Linked DNA regions of Homo sapiens: regions 1 and 3 are each linked to region 2. Evidence: fine-mapped expression QTL. A gene starts in region 2. Each other region holds a variant in brackets. All regions are shown on one strand. Distances are from middle to middle.

Region 1 (2,765 bases), 200 kb before region 2:
CCATTAGTGGAGTTCAGTATAAGGCTATTGCATCTGGACCCCATTGCAGAAGGATCAGTTATCCAGATGACAAATGTACCGTTTTATAAGGCAGTCTCCCTCAGAGTTTTCACTAAAGTTAGAGTTATAGAGATGCTTTGAGTACCAGTTATTTATGCTTCTCTGTCTTTCTTCATCAATAATTATGTATGTCTATATTTAATATTAATGAAGGTGTATAGTTTCATTTCCCTTTTTTTTGGAGAAAAAGTCTTACTTTGTCACCCAGGCTGGAGTGCAGTAGTGGCTCAACCCTGGCTCACTACAACCTCCACCTCCCAGGCTCAAGTGATCCTCCTACCTCAGCCTCCTGAGTAGCTGGGACTACAGGCACATGGCACCATGCCTGGCCAATTTTTTGTATTTTTGGTAGAGATGGGGTTTCACCATGTTGCCCAGGCTGGGCTCGAACTCCTGAGCTCAAGCAATCCACCTGCCTCGGCCTCCCAAAGTGCTGGAATTACAGGTGTGAGCCACCACGCCCAGCCTGAAGGTGTGTAATTTCTACAAGGACCAGAAAATGATGCATCCAGCCTATTGGGTGGTTGTATCCAAGACTATGCTATTTCAATCAGTGGAATTATTGTTTAGGGTCTTCAGAACTCTTAAACACGTCAATAAACTTGAAGATAAATACAACATTAAAATGAATTATAAAATTTTTATCCTTTTTCATTCATTCAAGTACTTATTGTCTACTTACTTTGGGATAATTACTGTCATAGGCACTACAGATCAAATATAGATTTTTTTTTAAAGACATGGTCTCTGCTCTCAAGGAGCTGACAGTCTAATAAAATTCAGAGGCCCCCATGGCTAGGAATCAAGCTTGTCAGACTGCTTGGTTAGCTTTTTAGTTCGTGTTTTGGGGAATTATCTTAATACTTTGGCTATATCAAGGCTTAGTTAGAAGAGGTATCTTGGAGCAGGAAAAGTAAACAAGACTGAATTCAGTGCATTTATTTTATAATTTACCAAGGTCTAGCCCTACCAATATTCTCACTACTGTCTTTGCCCTAAAGTTGGTCAGAAGATATTAAAAGCCAGAGGATAGAAATATATACATATACATGTATAGAGCTGTACTCTACTCAGGACACAATTGTAAGAGGATATCATTCCATCTGTAAAACTATTTTCTTCAGAAAAGCAAGACAACACATTCACTGAAGGTCTTTGACATAAAAAAGAAGTCCTCTAAGGAAAGTTTGATGGTCTGTAATATTTTTATTCACTGTTTGAAAGCTATTATAGCAGTCCCAAACAGGTCCCAAAAGGAGGGGGAACAACGACTTAAGTATCACCATTGCTACAGCAGAGACACATATGA[A/G]TACCACTCGCAGTATTTAGCCTAAAAAACCATGGCATGTGTTTCTTCCCTCTCTAGCCCCGCCCATGTCCACCTCTTCTTTGTGGCTATCAATCTTCCTTAATGCAATCATTTAGGTAAAATGAGCTGCTTTGCAGCTCCACATGTTGGTGTTTACAGCTCTTTATGAGCCAATAGGATAAATATCTATGGACATTGCAATATCTCTGCTTGGATGGACGTTGATGATATTGAAGAAAACGGTAAGTTACTGAGGGGAAATCAATCATGTGTACATATATGTTGATGTCTTGCTGAAGTGAAATCATTAGGCAAGAAGTGAATAAACACCAGGACTCCCTTTATGCTTCTAGACTTTGCATAAAATGAAGCAGGGTGATAATAATGGCAGTAGTAGTGGCCAGGAAGAAGGGAAGAAGGAAAGATCAGACAATGGTTTTAACAAGACAAGCAACAGTTTCAAAGAGAGCATATGCTTACTCAAGGGGGAATTATTGTTAGGTTTGGATTCCAGGCAAAAAAATTATCTTCCCTCCAAAAGGCTGTGGAATAATCATAAACACCTCCATCCTCTCCTCTCACACCATCTCAATGCAGAGACTCTGTTCTTGGGAACCTGGGAAGCCTGCAACCCAGGCTCTCCAAATATTGGGCTTCAAGAAACACAGGACCTCTTGAAATTATAGTCAAAATATGTGTGTGTGAATGTGCATTTTCCACTGAAAAGGTTTATAACTTTCATTAACTTCTCACAAAACACTCTGAGTCTCAAAGTTCAAAACTACTGCTATTGATAAAACATTGCTTTCAGAGAACACACATATAAAAAGGATTCAGTAGGGATCAGGAGTAGTACAATATTACCTAACCTGATATTTTCAGAATATAATTTCCACATAAATCACTGGATAAAGAGAAATTACTTAGAGACTGCCCTTTGCACAAAACATAAACAACTCCTTAAACTCCATACTAAGAGTTCTGAAGCTGGAAGTAGTTACCTTAGAGCAGTGGTCATGAGATGAGCAATTTGGAGCCTAGAAAATTAGATTTAAAGTTGCCAGATCACTGAGTCCCTTAGTGGCTCTTCATTTTTGTGGTGTCGTTTTTTTTTTCTTTTTTGAGACAGAGTTTCACTCAGTCGCCCTGGCTGGAGTGCAATGGCTTGATCTCGGCTCACTGCAACCCCCTCCTCCTGGGGTCAAGTGATTCTCCCACCTCAGCCTCCCGAGTAGCTGGGATTAAAGGCATCCACCAACATGCCCGACTAATTTTTGTATTTTTAGTAGTAACAGGGTTTCACCATGTTGGGCAGGCTTGTCTTGAACTCCTGACCTCAGGTGATCCACCCACCTCAGCCTCCCAAAGTGCTGGGATTACAGGTGTGAGTGACCAT
Region 2 (2,765 bases):
CACGTGACAACTGCGGATCAGGCATCTGAACCCGGCCTATCTTTCCACCGTATCTTCCTACACTTTTCTTTATGTACTTTTTATTTCTACCAGATGGTATTACTCCTTGTTTCTTGAATAACAGTGTCATGCCTTTCCAACCTCTGTATGTTTGCTCACAAGTTTCCCTCTGTCAGAGAAAAGCAAAAACAACAAAAAAGTCCTCTATTTTATCTTTTTCCAAACATAACCAATCCTTCAAGTCCTATCTCTAGTACTGTTCCTTTATGAACCCTGTCAGACAATATCTCATTTTCTTCTGAATGTTCATAGCATTTACTTAAAAATAGTATGACTTCCCTCTTCTTTTTACTAATGAATTACTGTGTATTTTTTAAGTTTCCTTCTACATCTGAAGTTCTAAATATTCTTAGTACAAATGTCCTACTGATCTAAGAGAGTATCATGGGTTAAATGTAGAGGAAGAGAAGTTTCTGAGATGGCAGGAAGGCAAAAGTTTCTGTGACTACCTGTGCTTATATTGCTGACTTTCTTAACTGTTCCTGACTTATTTAAATGTATTTTTTTCCTGATTCTGATTAATGTTCACTATGAGGCAAGCACAGTAGGCAAGACTGGGAGAAAGTTTGCAAATGTGATGAGCTTACAAATGGGACCAGATTAGATGGTGTACTTGGGGGAGATATAAAAGAGGAAGATAACCATGAATTGAACTGAATTGAAAATGGATCACATAAAGATCATGATTAATTGTTAATTCACAATGGAACAGCATGATGGGATTTTTTTAAGTCAGAAAGGTGACTAAAAGCATAATATCACAACACACACAACGGTAACAAATATAACTAAATGCACTGAACCAGGCAGAAGCCAGACCTTACTGAAAAGATGTAAAATCTCTGTAACCATAAAACTGCATCTGCAAATGAGTAGATTGGCTTCAAATCTGAAAACCAGGACAAGAGAGTCATCAGCGCAGATGTCAACTTCCCCAGCAGAAATGTTGGAGTTTTTAACTGTGGAAAACTACAGTTTTTCCACACCAGTGCATAGTGGAGAAGACATGTTTTTGTTTTTCTTTTTAAGTGTGCCAAATTTTCCTGGAGTCCCCTCCAATTTTTTTCTTTCTCTCTCTCTCTCTCTTTTTTTTTTTTTGTCCCCTGCCCCTAGGTCTCTGTCTCCACACAGTGATTTCTGTTATGGCGATTGGGCGGCTGCAGAGACCAGGACTCAGTTCCCCTGCCCTAGTCTGAGCCTAGTGGGTGGGACTCAGCTCAGAGTCAGTTTTCCAGAAGCAGGTTTCAGTGCAGAGTTTTCCTACACTTTTCCTGCGCTAGAGCAGCGAGCAGCCTGGAACAGACCCAGGCGGAGGACACCTGTGGGGGAGGGAGCGCCTGGAGGAGCTTAGAGACCCCAGCCGGGCGTGATCTCACCATGGTGCGTTTTGGCTGCTACTTTCTTTTTCAGTCTTTCGGTGCGGAGAAGGGGAGGAGGCGGGCAGAGGTCTGAAAAAATCGAATGCCTTATGGAAAGGAACTGCAAGGGTTCCTTTGGGGTGATCAAAGAGGGAGACACAGACACAGAGAGACAAAGGCAAGGAGGACTGTCTGGGAGCCACGCGGGCGATACAGTTTCCGAGGCACGCCGCGTCCCGCCTAGCCTGTTGAACAGGTAGACATGAGCGACCCAAGCGTAAGTGCCGCTGCCGCGAGTGCCCAGGGTGCACTCGCGCGGGGACCGACAGGTGCCACTGCAGGGTCCCCTCTCCCGCTCACTGCCTGCCACCCCTGACGCCTGCTCTCTTTCTCCATTCGCAGTGCGGATTTGCGAGGCGCGCCCTGGAGCTGCTAGAGATCCGGAAGCACAGCCCCGAGGTGTGCGAAGCCACCAAGTAAGTGGTCGCTGCATCCCCACGCGGGTCGGGGTTCTTCAGACAGGCGGTCCCTCTTCCGGGACCCCCGCTTGGGCTGGGTCTCCTTCCTCTCCTGAGAAACCTTCGGTACGCTCCCAGTTGCCCAGCCCTGGGAAGCCAGCATCGGGTTCCCACGCTGGGGAGGAGCGAGAGGAAAGGAGAGGACGCCCGAGGGGCCGGCCCAGGGCCCGGGGGACCCGCGGCGCCCGAGGGAGGAGCACAGACGGGGGTGGGCGCCGAGCAGCGCCGCGCCGGCTGCTGAGCTCGCGGGGCCGGGCCGTGAGAACGCGCGGGGCGCGCCGGGGCCGCTGGTCTCCCACGGCCAGGGCGCCTGGGCCCCAGAGCCCATCAGCCGCGTGCAGCGCTGCGGCCTCCGGCGCGCCGGCAGGCAAGCGAGCGGGCGCAGCTGGGGGATGCCTGGACCCCGGAGGCAGCAGGGCTGGAGGCGGTGGCGGGCTTCAGGGCAACTTCACCCGGCCGGCTGCGGCGTGGGTAAGAGGCGCGTCCTCCTCCACAGCAAAAGCTGCGATCGCTGGGCTGCCCAGAGAAGGCAGCCGGCTAACTGCCCAGCGGCTCCACGAGGTGTGCGCGTGTGTGCGAGAGAGACAAATGATTTACTGCTTAGCAGTCCCATTTCTGTTTTCGTTAGGACTGCGGCTCTTGGAGAAAGCGTGAGCAGGGGGCCACCGCGGTCTCCGCGCCTGTCTGCACCCTGTCGCCTGAGCTGCCTGACAGTGACAATGGTGTGAGGGGCTGCGTTGCAATGTGGTCATGTGATTTCAGGCTATGGATTTCGTGCGTCTTTCTCTGCTCACTGATTTTCACATGGTTATTCTTTCATTTTGCACTC
Region 3 (2,765 bases), 62 kb before region 2:
GCTAAGGCAGAAGTGTCCAGGTCCCTGCTCAGAGCCAAAGATCCCACACTGGAGACAGGGCTAGGAATGAAAGAACTCTTTGTTCTCACGCACCAGTGTGTGGGGCAGGGGGACGGGAAAGGTAGTAGACTTACCATTCTCAAGTGCTTGTGTTACTGCGTGGTTGTATTAGGTGCTTTGAGAGTTCTCTCTCATTTATCTTCACAATAACTCTAAGTGGAAAATCAAGCTCAGAGGTCCTAAGTCTCATGCCCCAAATTCCACAGCATAGAAATGATAGACCTGGTATTCAAACCTACTGGTGTCTGGCTCTTGTCCTTTCCTTTTCTATTTTTTTTTTTTTTTTTTTTTGAGACAGAGTTTTGCTCTTTTGCCCAGGCTGGAGCGAAGTGGAGCGATCTCGGCTCACTGCAACCTCTGCCCCCCGGGTTCAAGTAATTCTCCTGCCTCAGCCTCTCGAGTAGCTGGGATTACAGGTGCGTGCCACCACACCCGGCTAATTTTTGTATTTTTAGTAAAGACGGGGTTTCACCATCTTGGCCAGGCTGGTCCTGAACTCCTGACCTCACCTGCCTTGGCTTCCCAAAGTGCTAGGATTACAGGCATGAGCCACTGTGCCCAGCCGCTTTTGCCCTTTTCTTACTCATTACTGTCCCTGAAGGACAGGACAAGGAATGCACACGGACAGTTTTTGCATCTTCAATGCCAATTATAACATGGTCTCAATAAATAGTTATTAGAGGAGTGAAAGAAGGAAGAAAGGATTCAAGGAAGAAAGGAGGGAGGAACAAGGATACTTAGTGAAGAAAATACAGAAGATAGCAGAAAAACCATCAGGGCATCCTTAACCAAAGGTAGAACCATGCAAGAGTCCGATCAAATTATATTTGTTTTTCTCATGATGAAGACCTTCTCATTCTTTGCCTTAGCTCAGCAAATTTTTGTTGTTGTCTATATCATTTATTTCATTACAAATTGCAATTTGATGATTTTCTAGTTACCACATTTCTTTTATATGTATTAGCTGGAATGCTTCTGAAAAAAAAATCTTTGTATTATCAACTAATACTTTTGGTTACCTTGAAAATCTTTTTGGAAGTGAAAAGCATAAAAAGTTTAGAATGATCATGCTTTCAAGGTGATTGGGATCAGAAAAATGTTTTATTCTTGATCTTTGGAGCAAGCATAACCACCATCACTTCAAGTACACTGGCCACGACCCAACAGTTACTCCACGTCTCTGACTAAG[A/C]CTTCAGGATTCTTAGAACAAAAACCACAGAAACTTGGGCATTTTCCTAAATATGTCTTAGGTTTTGAGCCATTGCCAGACATGTTAAATTATTTAATGTAATTCATAGAGAGTATATAATTATGAACTTGGCAAAGCTAGAAGAGATAAGTAAACAGAGAGAGTTTTTAATATAATATACTCTCTGATAGTGAGCTATCTCACATTCTGCAATATATTTATAGAGAGGAGCGCCACACCTTCATAACTACATAGCAGGACACATGTACCCTGGTCAGGCAGTTTCTCCTTCTCAGTCTAACCTTGCATGTCACAAATTGAAGCTAACAATTTCATATGATTCCTCCATCTCATCTCTACCCTCAGCCCCAAAGGAGTCTCCCATGTTCCCAAGACAGGAATTGGAATATCTAGATAATAGGGGAGGCCCATTGAAGAGTTATTTCAGACAGATTTCCTGTCAGGCACTGGATTTGCTCACATGCCTGGTCAGATTATTTTCCTTAATCAGTGTTTTCAATTTGTGGGAAAAGAAAACCAGTGTCAGCAAATTGCCAATGGAGATGTTCTTTTGAATTACTTACTAAGGATCGTTTGATTAGAGCAGAAGCAATGGACCCTGTGAAATATATGTTCTGGAAACCAATTTTGTTGTGGAGACTTTTTCCAGTTGAGTTGCTGTTTGTGTGTAGATAGTTCTTACTGGAACACAACCAAAATATTTTTAACACCCTGTTAATTCTAAGACAACACTTCTCAATGTTGCATATATAAAGATTTGGTGGAATATGTACTCTTAAACCTGTAGAAACATATCTATGACTTTTTCCTTTTACATTTTCTCTTGAAACTCTTATAGTTTAAAAATGCCAACATAAATGATTTCTATGTATATATATATCCATTAAAATAATTATGTACTTGTAACTTATTTTTTCTAAATATCTGCTTTCAACAGAGAACAAACTAACTTCATTTACTTTTTTCCCTGATCTTTTATAACATAAACCATTACTTGAATTAATTAAAATAATGGCTATATTCTATTATAGGTATTAAAAAGAAGTTTTTTTGGGTATGAAATATTTTGAGATTTGTTATTTAAATTATGATCTATTCATAGGATGGGATAGTATCCAACCATTGATAATGATAATAATAATAGCTCATAAATATAGTGCTTACTTTGTGCCAGATGTAATACATGCTTTACATATAGTAACTTATTTACTTATCACAGCAACCTTTTGAATTGAGAAAACTGAGGTACAGAAAGGATAAGGGACTTGCGTAATGTCACACAATAGGTAAATCACACATTGGGACCTAAATCCAGGTAGTTCGGCTCCAAAGTCCGGGGGTAAAACACTTCATCATGTTGCTTCCCATTTGAAATCACATTGCAGATAAATGAGGACCCCTATAAATATGTTTACAATCTACTGTTAAGGGAACAAAGCAGTATTGGACCAATTGTATTACATACACTGATATGTGTGTATCAGTTGTGATATAT

Alleles and levels. Positions count from the first base shown, and alleles are read on the strand shown. Sizes are in standard deviations (SD) of each study's normalised expression.
For the expression in aorta of the gene that starts at base 1,323 in region 2, allele G in region 1 goes with a lower level than allele A (small effect, 0.39 SD a copy in GTEx).
With allele C in place of A in region 3, the expression in fibroblasts of the gene that starts at base 1,323 in region 2 is higher (moderate effect, 0.45 SD a copy in GTEx).

Evidence for each region.
Region 1: its variant is fine-mapped to the expression of GUCY1A1 in aorta (GTEx, PIP above 0.99).
Region 3: its variant is fine-mapped to the expression of GUCY1A1 in fibroblasts (GTEx, PIP above 0.99).

What each region holds. Positions count from the first base shown.
Region 1 is chr4:155,468,786-155,471,550 of GRCh38, forward strand. No RefSeq gene overlaps it. Among named protein-coding and RNA genes, the nearest start is that of MAP9, 93 kb to the left of the region's middle. The variant A/G (reference allele first, on the strand shown) is at 1,370.
Region 2 is chr4:155,665,526-155,668,290 of GRCh38, forward strand. It overlaps GUCY1A1 (guanylate cyclase 1 soluble subunit alpha 1), which reads left to right and starts at 1,323. Exons shown (of 10, transcript NM_001130682.3): 1 at 1,323-1,440; 2 at 1,821-1,894.
Region 3 is chr4:155,603,613-155,606,377 of GRCh38, forward strand. No RefSeq gene overlaps it. Among named protein-coding and RNA genes, the nearest start is that of GUCY1A1, 62 kb to the right of the region's middle. The variant A/C (reference allele first, on the strand shown) is at 1,250.